Linked DNA regions of Homo sapiens: region 2 is linked to region 1. The links come from fine-mapping of genetic effects on gene expression. Tissue or cell type: whole blood. Region 1 holds a variant in brackets; the other region holds the start of a gene. All regions are shown on one strand. Distances are from middle to middle. Region 1 overlaps DYNC2I1 (dynein 2 intermediate chain 1). Region 2 holds the start of DYNC2I1 (dynein 2 intermediate chain 1).

Region 1 (8,000 bases):
AGGCTGAGGCAGGAGAATGGCGTGAACCCGGGAGGCAGAGCTTGCAGTGAGCCAAGATCGCGCCACTGCGCTCCAGCCTGGGTGACAAAGCGAGACCCCATGTCAAAAAAAAAAAAAAAAAAGAAAAACAGGAGGGGTGTGTGTGTGTGTGTGTGTGTGTGTGTGTAAATGTTTAAAACTGGCTTCCAAACTCCTAAATATACATACCAATATATGATTATAAAAGATTATATGAGAAGAAATATTTGTAGGTATTTTTTTCTGTGGTAAATGTGTGGCTATAGCCAGATAATAAGCAATCCAACCACCACCACCAAAATTAAAGAAATAAAACATCCACGTCAAAACAACAGGTGCTGTATGACCTAATTTATGTAAAATTATGTTTGTGTACGGACATAGAATAAAGCAATTCATAAAAATACTGCACAAAGGCCAAGCGCAGTGGCTCACGCCTGTAATCCCAGCACTTTGGGAGGCCAAAGCAGGTGGATCACCTAAGGTCAGGAGTTCAAGATCAGCCTGGCCAACATGGTGAAACCCTGTCTCTACTAAAAATACAAAAATTAGCTGGGTGTGGTGGCGCATGCCTGTGATCCCAGCTATTCAGGAGGCTGAGGCACGAATCGCTTGAACCCAGGAGGCAGAGGTTGAGGTGAGCTGAGATCACGCCACTGCACTCCAGCCTGGGCAACAGAGTGAGACTCCATCTCAACGTATATATATATATATATGTATGTATGGCACAAAATTGTTAAATATGATTACCTCAGAATCATGGGTTTCAGATAACGATCAAAGAAGAAAAAATTATTCTCCAGAAATAATTCATAGAATCCAAAATATGCTTGCCACATTATCTGTAATAACAAAACAAAAAGGCTGGGTGCGGTGGCTCACGCCTGTAATCCCAGCACTTTGGGAGGCCGAGGTCGGCAGATCATGTGGTCAGGAGTTCCAGACCAGACTGGCCAATATGGTGAAACCCCATCTCTACTATAAATACAAAAATTAGCCGGGCATGGTGGCGCATGCCTATAGTCCCAGCTACTCAGGAGGCTGAGGCAGGAGAATCGCTTGAACCCGGGAGGCGGAGGTTGCAGTGAGCCGAGATCGTGCCACTGCACTCCAGCCTGGGCAACAGAGTGAGACCTGTCTCAAAAAAAAAAAAAAAAAAAAAAAAGGACAATGGTTTGATAATAACCCTAACTCCACAGTGTGCTATTTTAGAGTCACTAAGTAATCATTACAAAGCCTACTCTTATGATCCTAATGGAGACAGTGAAGATAATGAAGACTGTGGAGAAACGCTGATGTACTAATTGACAAGCTCAGCACAGGGTACAATTCTCCCTGTGCATAAATACATGTCACAAGGTAGCTTAACACATGGAAACAATTATGCAAGGAGAGGGATGATGATTGTGTGTTAGTAACAAGTGTCTATTAATAACATGTGCTTGGTAGAATTTGCCAGAGAAGCCATCAGAGCCTGAGCGACTTTGTGGGGAGATCTGTAACACAAACGCAATGTCTTGACTCACTATAGGTCTATTCAGGCTACTGCTTCCAGCAGTTTTAGTAACTGATAGTCTCTAGGAATTTGTCCTTTCATCTAAATTACCTAATTTGTTACCATAAAATATTGTCCTACCTGTTACTGAAAGTGGGGTGCTAAAGTTACTATTATTATTAATTGTCTCTTTCTCCCTTCAATTCTGTCAGTTTTTGCTGCTTGTGTTTTGGGACCCTCTTGTTAGGTAAATATCCATTTACAATTGTTTTATCGCCTTCTGCTGAACCAATTATTTGCTCATTCTGAATTGTCTCTCTCTAGTAACACTTTCTGTCTCAAAATCTGTTTTATCTGATACTAGTGTAGCCAATCCAGCCCTCTCATAGCTGCTGTCTGATAGATTCTCTTTGTCCACCTTTTTACTTTCAATCAATTTGCATCTTCTAACCTAAAGTGAGTCTCCAGTGTGCCTTCTGGGATCACCACTCGAATAAACCATCTGCAAATGAGCCCTGTCTCGGCCTCTGGTTTCAAGGGGAAGCCCAAAGTAAGATTATGGTTAATCTCAATGTACCATAAAATCAATGTATTCTCAGTGGAGACTGCCTTACCTTCCGTCTTGAATCTTTATCTTTTCCATGATTCCTTACTAAATTCTCAGCATGCCTGGAAAGCAAACATAATCAAAATCAAAACTTACTTTAAATGAGAGCTTTTAAAAAATAAAACATTTTCCATATCAGTGAAAGCTCTTAACAATATTTTGATATGATTAAGAACTACTACAACCAGGAGCGATGACTTGCACCTGTAATCCCAGCTATTTGGGAGATTGAGGCAGGAGGACCACTTGAGGCCAGGAGTTCGGGACCAGCCTGGGCAACAGAGTAGACCCCATCTCTACAAAAATAAAAAATTAGCCTGGCATGGTGGCACATGCCTGTAGTCTCAGCTACTTGGGAGGCTGAGGCAGGAGGTTTGCTTGAGCCCAGGAGTTTGAAGCTGCAGTGAGCCATGATTGTGCCACTGCACTACAGCCTGGGCGACAGAGAAAGACCCTTTCTCAAAAAATAATTTTTTTAAAAAACTGTTTCAGGTTAGCAAAGCATGTTTTATTAGAGCAATAAATGTTAAAGTCTTCCTAGCATTCTTACTATTTTAGCAATAATTCAAGACAGAAAATATCTTCCAGAGAAGAAATTATGTGTTTTAACAAACTTGTGAGTGCAAATCTACATCCTTTACAAGTTCTCGGCCGGGCGCAGTGGCTCACACCTGTAATCCCAGCACTTTGGGAGGCCAAGGTGGGCAGACTGCCTGAGGTCAGGAGTTCGAGACCAGTCTGGCCAACATGGAGAAACCCCATCTCTACTAAAAATACAAAAAAATTAGCCAGGCGTGGTGGCGTGTGCCTGTAATCCCAGCTACTCAGGAGGCTGAGGCAGGGGAATTTGCTTGAACCAGGGAGGTAGAGGTTACAGTGGGCCGAGATCATGCCACTGCACTTCAGCCTGGCGACAGAGCAAGACTCCATCACAAAACAAAAAATAAAAAGAGTTGTAGAAATTTTCTATAATTTTATTGGTCTATCTGAAATACTATTTTATATTAAATATAAAAGATATATATAAAATATAAATATGTTATATAATATGTAATATAAAATAAAAATATAAAATCTTTCTAAAAGAAAGATTTATCTTGAAATGTTTTATATTTTAATCACATTTCATGTTAGGACCTAAAATAAAGATTTGCAAAATATCAAACTGATTCTCAATTTTTAAACTTTCATTCATATCAATATACCATGCGGTTTAACAAAAATACAGAATTGAGCAAAAAAAGTCTTATTGTGCCTTCTAGTGGACATGCAGTATAAAATCCAGGAA[T/C]TGACACCCTAGGTTTAAGTGTTAGCTTTGCCCAAACTTGTAAAAATTTGGGTAAGATATTTAACCTGGGTTTTCTAATCTTTGAAAAACGATTACAAAATATGATTGTCAGAAAGAACAAATTAAAGTCTAGGGCTTACATATGAGAGTTTAGGCCAGGCACAGTGGCTCACGCCTGTAATCCCAGCACTTTGGGAGGCCAAGGCAGGTGGATGACTTGAGGCCAGGAGTTCAAGACCAGCCTGGCCAACATGGTGAAACTCCATCTCTACCAAAAATACAAAAATTAGCTGGGTGTGGTGGTATGTGCCTGTAGTTCCAGCTACTTGGGAGGCTGAGGCAGAAGAATAGCTTGAACCTGGGAGGCGGAGGTTGCAGTGAGCCGAGATTGCGCCACTGCACTCCAGGCTCGGCAACAAAGTGAGACTCTGTCTCAAAAAAAAAAAAAAGAGTTTATACATAAACTCCAATTATGTATTGCAAAACCCACACGAGACAGGAATTATCATCACTGCTTTAGCGAAAAGCCACCCAACACTGCAACTAAGAGGTAGACAGGAAATTCCAACCAAGGCTGACCCCCACCCCCAGCTCTGGGGGTCTCTGCCAAGGCCTGAGGGCGGAATGTTATCCCGTGTGTTCACAAGTGATAAACAGTGGGCAGAGGGGGACTCGCCGGCACGTCCTGTTTTTAGTGGCTGTGAACCAGAATGGTTTGCTCAGGTGCGTAAAGGTGCAAAACTGCCCACCTGCGGATTTGCTTTAGCTTCAGGCAGGGAGGACTCCCTCTTGCACATTAAGTGACTCCCAAGTGAATTATTCTCCCCAAAGTGAGTACCAATTTTCTAATTTTGCATGAGCAAATGTTAAAAAGGACAAAAGTAGATCCTGAGGCAATAAATACAAACAATAATATTAAAATGAAAAAATTAAAATATAATTAATTTAAAAGGCCAAAGAAAGCTAATAATATATTAAGTTTCCAAGCTCCTCCAGTATTCCAAAAACCTACCAACCCATTTGGAGGGGCTAAGGGGTAAAATCTAGAGAAAATGAAGTATATCTATAACTGATTGCCATGGACTGGCCGTCATCGGAGCCAATAAGAAAATTCCCTGAAGCATTCCATGAGAGCGGCACACGTAAAGGTCGACCACAGGGCATGCAATCCTTACTGGCTGCTGGTCCCATCTCTTTTTGAGCTTGCACCTCGATTTCTGTGTTCACCATTCTATCAAACAAAAATATAATCCCATAACCATTTATTAGCATATCGGAATGAAGTAAGCATAATTAGTAAACCCCACAAAACAAGCACAGATTCAAAATTTAACAACAGCATGTACATCACAAGTACCTTTTAAAATAACTATTTTTACCAGTTATTTTTAGTAAATTAGATAATTAAATGTAAAGAAAATGGATAAAAGTATATATAAAAGGGTGATTATGCTGGGCACGGTGGCTCACGCCTGTGATCCCAGCACTTTGGGAGGCCAAGGCGGGCGCATCACCTGAGGTCGGGAGTTATAGACGAGCCTGACCAACACGGAGAAACCCCGTCTCTACTAAAAATACAAAAATTAGCCGGGCGTGGTGGCGGGCGCCTGTAGTCCCAGCTACTCGGGAGGCTGAGGCAGGAGAATGGCGTGAACCCGGGAGGCGGAGCTTGCAATGAGCAGAGATTGCGCCACTGCACTCCAGCCTGGGCGACAGAGCGAGACTCCATCTCAAAAAAAAAAAAAAAATTGTTTTTTAAAAGGATAAAGGTGTGGCAGATAGGATAACAACGAGATGAGGCCACTGGATTCTTCTATTAAAGAAGTCACTGGGCCGGGCGCGGTGGCTCACGCTTGTAATCCCAGCACTTTGGGAGGCCGAGGCGGGCGGATCACGAGGTCAGGAGATCGAGACCATCCTGGCTAACACGGTGAAACTCCGTCTCTACTAAAAATACAAAAAAATTAGCCGGGTGTGGTGGCGGGCGCCTGTAGTCCCAGCTACTCGGGAGGCTGAGGCAGGAGAATGGCGTGAACCCGGGAGGCGGAGCTTGCAGTGAGCCGAGATTGCGCCAATGCACTCCAGCCTGGGCAACAGAGCAAGACTCCGTCTCAAAAAAAAAAAAAAAAAAAAAAAGAAGTCACTGGTCAGGAAGCTTAGAACATTTTGTATATTTATTGTACTTACTCATACTCTATCTCAAATTGATAACTGGAGGAAGCTTACAATAAAAGTTATATCATTCTAATTAAAATCATGGATCAAAAATCATATAGAGGCCAGGCACCATGACTCACACCTGTAACACTTGGCCTTGGTAGGCCAAGGCAGGAGGATCACCTGAGGTCAGGAGCTCGAGGCCAGCCTGGCCAACATGGCGAAACTCTACTAAAAATACAAAAAAAAAAAAAATAATAATAAGCCAGATGCACACCTGTAATCCCAGCCACTCGGGAGGCTGAGGCAGGAGAATCACTTGAACCCAGGAGGCGGAGGCTGCAGTGAGCCAAGATCACACCACTGCTCTCTGGCCTGGGCGATACAGTGAGACTCAATCTCAAAAAAAAAAAAAAAAAGAAGAAGAAAAAATATCATATAGAGAAAGTGAGAGAGAATCACAGAGAACATCCATCCCCGGGAACAGTCCCAGTTTCTATCTGTTGTCCTGGCGTAATTATTAGCAGTGCACCTTGCACTTTACGGTAACCACAGGATAATTACATCAAGCAGTAGGTTCAGAGTACTCAGTTGAAGAATATCTAAAATTGATACTAATTTTGAGTATCAAAAGTACTCAAAAGTTTTGAATTTCTGAAAGTCAACGCAAAGGAAAAAATCTTTAATTATACAATGCTCGATCCCCATTCCTGATATTGTATCGTGTATCTGTTCATTTCTTTTCCTTTTTTTTTTTTTTTTGAGACAAAGGCTCACTCTGTCCTCCAGTCTGGAGTGCAGTGGCACGATCTCAGTTCACCGTAACCTCTTCCTCCCAGGTTCAAGCAATTCTCCTGCCTCAGCCTCCCAAGTAGCTGGGATTACAGGCACGTGCCACCATACTTGGCTAATTTTTGTGTATTTTTTAGTAGAGACAGGGTTTCACTATGTTAGCCAGGCTGGTCTCGAACTCCTGACCTCAAGTGATCCACCTGTCTCGGCCTCCCAAAGTGCTAGGATTATAGGTGTGAGCCACCATGCCTGGTCTCTTTTTTAAGACAAGGTCTTACTGTACCACGCAGGTTGGACTGCAGTGATATGATCACAGCTCACTGCAGGCTTGACCTCCTCGGCTCAAGTGATCCTCCCACCTCAGCTTCTGTAGTAGCTGGGACTACAGCTGTGTGCCACCATGCCTGGCTAAATTTTTTTTTTTGGTAGAGATGGGGTCTCACTATATTTCTCAGGCTGGTCTTGAACTCCTGGGCTCAACAGATCCTCCAACCTCAGCCTCCTGAGTAGCTAGGACTCCAGGTGTAAGCCACCACACCTATCTGAGATTTAGGTGGTTTTTTTTTGGTAGTTCTTTATCCTATGGCTTCTCCAACACAACATAAGCACCATAAGAACAGTAATTTTTGTTTTGTTCACAGCTGTATCCTCAGCACCTAGAACAGTGCCCAGCATACAAGCCACTCAGATAGGAACAGCTTGTCTTAAAAAGAAAATGTCAGTCGTCTGAATAATCTTTCTTCTGGGACTAATTTGAAGGCAGTGGTTTTACAAAGATACAGGATAATGTTCTTCATCGACCATTTTTCACATTCACCTTTAATAAAAGCCAAATCTATGTCCAGAAAGGCATTTCTGGGTGGAACTAAGCACATGTAACCTAAGTCACTTCCAGTAATTAAACATGATCTAGGGAATGGAGAATAGCCAAGTTCAATAAAAGGCAAGTAGCGGAGTCTAAGTTATGGGTACAAGAGTGTTCTTTGGAAAATTACGTCGACTTTGCTGTATGTTTGAAAATGTTCGTAACACAACGTTGGGAGAAAATGATGAAGTTTTGATCTAGGGAAAGAGATTTAGAAACAAAAAAAATGGCCGGGCGCGGTAGCTCATGCCTGTAATCCCAGCACTTTGGGAGGCCAAGGCGGGCGGATCATGAGGTCAGGAGATTGAGACCATCCTGGCTAACACGGTGAAACCCCGTCTCTACTAAATATACAAAAAATTAGCCGGGAGTGGTGGCACATGCCTGTAGTCCCAGCTACTCGGGAGGCTGAGGCAGGAGAATGGCGTGAACCTGGGAGGCCAAGGTTGCAGTGAGCCGAGATCGCACCACTGCACTCCAGCCTGGGCGACAGAGCGAGACTCTGTCTCAAAATAAATAAATAAATAAAAATAAATAAAAACAAAAAAAATGAGTATCTGTCCTCAAGGAGCTGCTTCTCAGTGACCGCCTCAACTAACCTTCCGTGTGGCTGACTAGAGGGGAGTCCAGGCTTTCCACACCGTAGACGCGGGTAGCAGAACCGGCACTGCCTCAAACCTGCTAAGAAACACGGCCAACGCCCTGATGCAAACAGAGGGCGTGGGCTGCGGAAGACAGTGGGGTCTCAGTGAGGAAAGGCCCCAGGGCAAAGGCGAGG
Region 2 (8,493 bases), 29 kb after region 1:
AAAAAAACTCTAATACCAAAATAATCCAATACAATTTTATTCCAGTAATCTCATGAAAACTTTATCCTTCCCCTTACCTTATGAAATAGACTATACTAATTAATTCTATATCACAGCCTAATAGTTACATAATTAGATTCTAATGACCCATGGGTTAACTTCCTAAAAAGTTAAAGACCGACTTGCAATTGAGAACCTGTTACAGGAATTCATTAGTTGCCAGGAAATATCCAGCTCTGAGATCTGTTGCTTTTGCTACTTTAAAAATGTTTATTTACTGGCCTGGCACAGTGGCTCATGCCTATAATCCCAGCACTTTGGGAGGCCGAGGTGGGCGGATCAAGACCAGCCTGGACAACACGATGAAATCCCGTCTCTGCTAAAAATACAAAAATTAGCTGGGCGTGATGACACACATCTGTAATCCCAGCTACTCAGGAGCCTGAGACAGGAGGACCGCTTTAACCTGGGAGGTGGCGGTTGCAGTGAGCTGAGATCACGCCATTGCACTCCAGCCTGGGCGACAGAGCGAGACTCTGTCTCAAAAAAAATGAATTTTATGTATTAAATATGTATCAGAATAAAACCCCAAGGGACAGTCAAATGTCAAAAATAACGAATGAAAAAAGATCTATAACAAACTACATCCATATTCAAAACATCACAGATAAAGATCCTAAATCTTCTGGAGAGAAAGAAAATGTTACTCACAAAGATATCTCATCAGCCAAACACACTGCTAGAAGACAAAAGTAAACCATCTTCAAAGTTCTGGGAAATTATTTTGCTCCTAGAATTCTATGCTAAGCCAAACTCTTAAACAATCTATCAGTATAATAAGGATATTCTTAGGGCATACAGTTTTCTTCCCACATATACTCTTGTCTAAAAAGGTATGCGACAGGCCAGGCATGGTAGCTCGCACCTGTAGTCCCAGCACTTTGGGAAGCCAAGGCAAGAGCGTTGCTTGAGCCTGGGAGGTTTAGGCTGCAGTGAGCTGTGAGCGTGTCACTGCACTCCAACTTGGGTGAAAGAGCAAGACTCTGAAGAAAGGAAAGGAGAGGAAAGGAAAGGGGGGGAGGGGAGGAAAGGGGAGGGGAGGAAAGGGGAGGGGAGGGGAGGAAAGGAAAGGGGAGGGGGGAGGGGAGAGGGGAGGGGAGAGGAGGAGAAGGGAGGGGAAAGGGGAGGGCAGGGGAAAGGGGAGGGGAGAGGAAGGGAGGGGAAAGGGGAGGGGGGAGGGGAGAGGAAAGTGGGGGGAGGGGATACTCCACTGGAAAAAGCATGGAGATTTCAAAAAAGAGGGAGACACTTGATCCAAGAAACAGTAGGCCTAACCCAGAAGCACAATGAGAAAGAATTCCCAGATCATAGCTCTGTGCATGTCTAGAAAACAATTTGTCCTGATGAGAACATAAAGTCAGTGAGCTCTGGGAAGAATTTAAGAGAATTTCATTAAACAGGTAATATGACACTAATAAGCTAGAAGACATCATAAGGTTTAAAAATTTAAAACAGCTTATGTTCTTTTTTGCCAAAACTAAAAAAACAGGGCAAATAGGGCCATTTATGAAAGACATGGTCCAAATGATAAGCAAACTTCATTGTGGTACATTAACTGAATGTAACAAAAGATGACCCCTTTGACCCTGACACCAGAAACATTGTTCCCTGAGTAGAGTGAGCTTAGAATACAGGACTCCATTGTATCTATTGGTCCAATCTGACTATTTGGTTCTGCAATGAAAACGTATATAACCATGATGTTATAGTGTTTATTGGTTTTCATTTTTAAAATCAACCTATAAACAAATCACGGACAATGTAAGTTACAGAGTAACTTAAAGAAATGTAAAGAGAATAGCATAGAAGATGACAGGGTCAGGAAATTAGTGGGTTTAGGGAGAAATGGGGAGTGCAGGGCAGTAGCTTCTTAATCTTAACTAGGGGAAAGTTAAAAAATACTATCTAAGGTTGGCCTAGCGCGGTGGCTCACGCCTGTAATCCCAGCACTTTGGGAGGCCAAGGCGGGCGGATCACCGGAGGTCAGGAGTTCGAGACCAGCCTGACCAACATGGAGAAACCCCATCCCTACTAAAAATACAAAAATTAGCCAGGCATAGTGGCACCTGCCTGTAATCCCAGCTACTCGGGAGGCTGAGGCAGGAGAATCGCTGGAACCCAGGAGTTGGAGGTTGCGGTGAGTAGAGATCGTGCCACTGTACTCCAGCCTGGGCGACAAGGGGAATTATCTTTAAAAAAAAAAAAAAAAAAAGGCCGGGTGCAGTGGCTCACGAAGTCAGGAGATCAAGACCATCCTGGCCAACACGGTGAAACCTCATCTCTACTAAAAATACAAAAATCAGCTGGGCTTGGTGGCGGACATCTGTAATCCCACCTACTCGGGAGACTGAGGCAGGAGAATCTCTTGAACCCTGGAGTCGGAGGTTGCAGTAAGCCAAGTTCGTGCCATTGCATTCCAGCCTGGTGACAGAGTGAGACTCCATCTCAAAAAAAAAAAAAAAACAAAAACCTAAGGTTTATATAACATAAAATACAAATTAAGGAGTATTATTCAACACATAAAGGTAAGTGATGGGGAAAAAATAATAGGAGTGAAGGTAGAAGAAAATGTATGCAAATTAAATTCCTCATCTTTCAGTGGGGAATCAATAGATAAGAATAATACAGTAATATCTAACATTTATTGAGTGTTAATGAAAGCAGGCACTGGTCTATGCACTTTTACACATAATATCTCACTTAACCTTCTTAAACACCCTATAATGTTGCTATTATTATTGTGCCCATTGAATGAATTAGGAAACAAGACATGTTAAGTGAGTTTGCCAAGGTCATACAAGTAAATACAAAATCCTGAATTCAAACTCAAGCACCCAGGCTGCACTCTCTCAACCTCTTAAACTGTGACAAGTCATATTTAAACTTAAGTCAGCTAAAATTTAATAAACTTTTAAATATGTCTCCTCAGCCACCCCGGCCCCGCAGCAGGGGCCGAGGCCGCCTCCAGGCCGGGCGCGAGGAGACGGGCCGCGGCGGCGACCCCAGGCCTGAGGCTGCACAGACCGCCTCTCCCGACCGCCGGGAGCCCGGCGTCCTGCCATCCCTCGCGCCGACGGCCAGCCGCGCCTCCGTTTCCCTTCCTGCCTCGGAGGCACCGCGGCTCCTCCGGGAAGCCCCGGCCCGGCCGAGAGAACCGCTGCGCAAAGGGAGGGCGGCGGCGGCGCTGCTAGCGGCGCCCGAAGGAGTCCGCGAAGCTCGACCACCCCTCGCCCAGACCCAGCGCCGCACCGACCTTCCCGGGCTCCATCGCTTCCCGCAGGCCCGGGCGGCCGCGGTGTCCTCGGCCCCGGCCAGGCGCGGTCCACCCCGAAGAGGCCACCTGTGCCCCGCACCCTTCGGGAGGCGCGTCCCAGCGCCTAGCAACCGACAAGCAGGAGCAGCAGAGGGCCCAGAAGCACTGCCCAGCGTGCCCTGCGGCCTCTCCCAGTGCGCCTGCGCATCCCCGGCATTTTTAGCACCTGGCAGGCAGGAGCAGGGGAAGGCCGAGTGGTCGCTGCTCGGCGTGCCCGCGGCCCCTCCCAATGCGCCTGCGCTTCCCCGGCTCCTAGCAACCGCCAGGCAGGAGCAGCAGAGGACCGAGCGGTCGTTGGTCTCCCCAAGGGGTAGGTGCAGTACCCTGACTTGGGGTGCAGGGGCTCTTGACTCGCCCCAACCCGCCCCGGGTTCCCACGGGACCGGACTGACAGTCGGGGAAGATAGAAAGGGAGAGCAGATATTGAAAAGAGCTTTACGTTTGAGGCCGAGCGCGGTGGCTCACCCCTGTAATCCCAGCACTTTGGGAGGCGGAGGCGGGTGGATCATGAGGTCAGGAGATCGAGACCATCCTGGCTAACACGGTGAAACCCCGTCTCTACTAAAAATACAAAAAAAAAAAATAGCTGGGCGCAGTAGCAGGCGCCTGTAGTCCCAGCTACTCGGGAGGCTGAGGCAGAAGGATGGCGTGAACCTGGGAGACGGAGCTTGCAGTGAGCGGAGATCACGCCACTGCACTCCAACCTGGGCGACAGAGCGAGACTCTGTCTCAAAAAAAAAAAAAAAAAAAAGAAAAGAGCTTTACATTTGAATAAGGCTTTGCACTTAACAAATTATATTCCCATATGTCGTCTTTTGATAAAAACAAGCAGTAAGGTAGGCAGGAATCAACGTTGAGAGACTGTTTTTATACAACACGTAAGGGAAAATCAAAAACTCTCAGGACCTCCGAACTCCTTCAGCCAAAGGGAAAGTTAGGGCTGAAAGCCTGAAACCGCCTTTTCAAAATTATGACTGAGGCAGTAAAAGAGGTGTAACTTAACCCACAGCATCTTGCTTCTGACCTCCAAGCTGTGCTTGTTCCTTCCTGGCAGTAGGCTGAACTAACTTTGGGAGAAACTTAGTTTATATTTTATAATTTAAACACAGACGGTAACAGCCCTTTCCCAAAGCAGGCCTTCTTGCCTGGGGACTTGATTGCCTTTGTAGGACTGATGTTAGCCACAAGATTAGAAATTACGTTTTAGGAGTAGTTTCTAATATGCAGCTGGAGGCTACAATATTCTGACCCTCCCTAAACTGCTCCTAAGATCAGTGCTTGAGATATTTTGCAGAACCTGCACTTGATGGATCAGCTGGCACCACCCAGATCAATAAACTGGCTCATCAGATCTTGTGGCCCCTCACCCAGGAACTGATAAGGGCAAGAAGACCGCTTTGACTCCCTATGATTTCATCTCTGACCAATCAGCACTCCTGGCTCACTGGCTTCCCCCCACCCAAGTTATCCTTGAAAACTCTGATCCCTGAATGCTTCAATGCTCAAGGAGATGGATTTGAGTAATAATAAAACTCTAGTCTCCTGCACAGCCAGCTCTGTGTAAATTACTCTTTCTCTATTGCAATTCCCCCATCTCGATAGGCTCTGTCTAGGCAGCGGGCAAGGTGAACCCCTTGGGTGGTTGCAAGCCGAGTCGCCCAACACCCTCTTCCAAATGCACAGCTGTTGCTTTGCAGGCTGCAAGGCTCCTGCCAGCCAGGCCCCCGTGAAGGCAGGGCCGGGCACCTTGGCCCCCACCAGTCTCCCAGGTGTAAATGTTTTGCCAGCCTGGAGACCTTTCAAGATGTGTGTCCTCACTTAAACAAAGACACGCCAATTGTAACTTTAGATCTGCAACTTAAGTCTGAAACTACCTCTGCAAGAATTAGAACTGAGAAAATTATGACAGTGAAAGAGATCTAACCTGACTCCATCTTGCTTCTAACCTCCAAGCTGTCCTTGTCCATTCCTGGTCGTAGAATAGTTTAACTTTGAAAGAAAGATAACAGCCCTTTCCCAAAACAAACCCCCTTCTCTTTTTTTATTATTATTATACTTTAAGTTCTGGGGTACATGTGCAGAACGTGCAGGTTTGTTACATAGGTATACACATGCCACGGTGGTTTGCGACACCCATCAACCCGTCATCTACATTAGGTATTTCTCCTAATGCTATCCCCCAGCCCCCCCCGACAGACCCCCACGTGTGATGTTCCTCTCCCTGTGTCCATGTGTTCTCATTGTTCAACTCCCACTTATGAGTGAGAACATGCGGTGTTTGGTTTTCTGTTCTTGTGATAGTTTGCTGAGAATGATGCAAACCCTCTTCTTGCTGGGGACTAGATGGCCTTTGGAGGACTAACAAATTAGCCATGAGATTAGAAATTATGGTTTAGGAGTCATGCAGCTAAAGGCCACAAGATTCTAAACCTCCTCAATTACTCCTAGGGATAATATCACTATTGTAAAACCTAAGATTGGTGCTTGAGACATTTTTCAGTCCCTTCACTCAATGGGTCGGCTGGTGCAACCCAGATGGATAAACTGGCTCATCTGGTCTTGTGACCCCCACTTAGGAACTGACTCAGCGCAAGAAGACAGCTTGGATTCCCTGATTTCATCTCCAATCCTACCAATCAGCACTCCCCACTTCTCAACGCCCCCCCACCCACTAAATTATCCTTCAAACTCCAATCCTCAAATTTTGGGGGACACTGATTTGAGCAATAATAAAACTCCACTGGGCATGGTGGCTCATGCCTGTAATCCCAGCACTTTGGGAGGCTGAGGCAGGCAGATCACCTGAGGTCGGGAGTTTGAGACCAGCCTGACCAACATGGAGAAAGCCCGTCTCTACTAAAAATACAAAATTAGCTGGGTGTGGTGGTACATGCCTGTAATCCCAGCTACTTGGGGGCTGAGGCAGGAGACTCTCTTGAACCCAGGAGTGGGAGGTTGCAGTGAGCCAAGATCGCGCCACTGCACTCCAGCCTGGGCAACAAGAGCAAAACTCCATCTAAAAAAAAAAAAAAAAACCTCTGGTCTCCCATACAGCCGGCTCTGCGTGAATTAAATTCTTTCTCTATTGCAATTTCCTATCTAGATAAATCATCTCTGTCTGAGCAGCCGGCAAGGAGAACCTGTTGGGCGGTTACAAGTCCAGCTCATAAAAACTAAGGTCTAAAACGAAAGACTGTTCAACTTCACACTGATAATGACCAAGAAAACCTTGGTCACCCCATGCAGATGAGGCCTCCAGGTAGCAGGCTTCAGAGAGAATCGACTGTAAATGCTTCTTACCAGACTTAAAGAAGCCTGTTCCATCCGTGATTCCAAAAGGGAGGAGGGTATCATGAGGCATGTCCATCTCCCTCTTCCCATCATGTCCTGAACTACTTCTTCAGGTTAAGTTTGGAATGCCCTTGGCCAAGGAGGAGTGGTCCATTCAGATGGTTGGGGGTCTTACAATTTTATTTTTGGTTTACATCCTCCCCTTGTGGCCAACATTTGTCAGAGGCAACACCAGTGGCCACCAAGCTTTTGTTTTGTTCCATAGCATTGCCAGGGTGACATGGCTGCCTGCCCTGGATCTGTCCTGTCTCTCAGCGGGACACCCTATGGCCAAGAGACTTAGAGTCAAAAGACTTGTAGCCAATTAAAATGTTCTAGGCCAAATGGGAATGGACACAGACAAGCATTCATTAACCCTTAAAAATTTAAGTAAAAAGCCAACAAACAAAAAGCCAAGGGCGAGGTTACAAACCTGACTGAGCTACTGTAATCTTGGTTTTAGTTACAGACTTATAGCAATTAGCTATACAGAACATAAGCATTGTTAAAACCTTTTAAGCTAAGGATTTTTAGAGACTTTTGTTGTGCTGCAATGCTTTTTATTGTCCTTTAGTAATTTGTCCTAAAATGGCTAATAAAATTTTTTATTTTTATTTTTTTGAGACGAAGTCTCGCTCTTGTCCCCCAGGCTAGAATGCAATGGCGCGATCTCAGCTCACTGCAACCTCCGCCTCCAGGGTTCAAGCAATTCTCCTGCCTCAGCCTCCTGACTGGCTGGGACTGCAGGCACCTCCCACCACGCCTGGCTAATTTTTGTATTTTTGGTAGACACGGGGTTTCACCATGTTGGCCAGGCTGGTCTCGAACTCCTGACCTTGTGATCTGCCCACCTTGGCCTCCCAAAGTGCTAGGATTACAGGCGTGAGCCACCATGCCCAGCCGGTCTGAACTAATTCTCTCCCTCAAAACCAGCGCTTACAGGCCGGGCGCGGTGGCTCATGCCTGTAATCCCAACACTTTGAGAGGCCAAGGCGGGCGGATCACAGGGTCAGGAATTCAAGACTAGCCTGGCCAACATGGTAAAACCCCGTCTCTACCAAAAATACAAACATTAGCCAGGCATGGTGGCAGGCACCTGCAATCCCAGCTACTCAGGAGGCTGAGGCAGGAGAATCGCTTGAAACCAGGAGGCAGAGGTTGCAGTGAGCCAAAATCACACCACTGCACTCCAGACAACAAGAGCAAAACTCCATCTAAGAAAAAAAAAAACAGCCCTTAGAATCTCAGGCGCCCAGCTCTTCTGCTATGGTCCCTGGCCCTAGAGGGAGGGTGCCTGTGTAGGGTTAGCAGGGCACTGGCCATGAAAACAGATCAGGCACAGTGGAATGCCCGAGTGCCAATGCCACATCTTTTTAGAATTCCGTGATTCTGGTTTCCTTGGAAGTAAAACAAGAAGAGATAAATAACATTAATAATTTGATAATCAGAATAGTATTTGTGTGTCAGAACAGAAGAAAGAACCTATTCTGCTGGGGCACCAACTATAAATATGAATCAAAATTGTAGCCTGGTGCTCTTTAGAGGATTCTTGCAGCCCAGAGATGATTCATGATTCAATCTGCACTCAAAAACAGAAGTCAGGACAGTCATCAGTAACAAGTGTTACACTTTTCCTTTGACTCAGTTTCTCTCTAGCCCTCCTTTTCTAATAAAGAGACATTATAATAAGATCAACTTGTGTGGAAAATACGTTTTAGTCTTATTATAGTTGGCCTGATGATTTGCATAAAGTGCAGCAAGAACCAATTGACTATATACACTCTTCTTAA

Evidence for each region. PIP is the estimated chance that this variant, and not a neighbour inherited with it, causes the effect.
Region 2: it holds the start of DYNC2I1, and the variant in region 1 is fine-mapped to the expression of DYNC2I1 in whole blood (TOPMed, PIP 0.94).

The regions. Positions count from the first base shown.
Region 1 is chr7:158,881,203-158,889,202 of GRCh38, reverse strand. It overlaps DYNC2I1 (dynein 2 intermediate chain 1), which reads right to left. Exons shown (of 25, transcript NM_018051.5): 6 at 4,584-4,639; 7 at 2,128-2,182. Among named protein-coding and RNA genes, the nearest start is that of DYNC2I1, 29 kb to the right of the region's middle. The variant T/C (reference allele first, on the strand shown) is at 3,409.
Region 2 is chr7:158,851,571-158,860,063 of GRCh38, reverse strand. DYNC2I1 (dynein 2 intermediate chain 1) reads right to left here and starts at 3,506. Exons shown (of 25, transcript NM_018051.5): 1 at 3,314-3,506. The coding sequence starts at 3,328. LOC124901796 (a long non-coding RNA gene) reads left to right here and starts at 3,542. Exons shown (of 2, transcript XR_007060627.1): 1 at 3,542-3,683; 2 at 4,668-4,926. RefSeq lists an enhancer at 2,089-2,630 and a silencer at 2,981-3,450.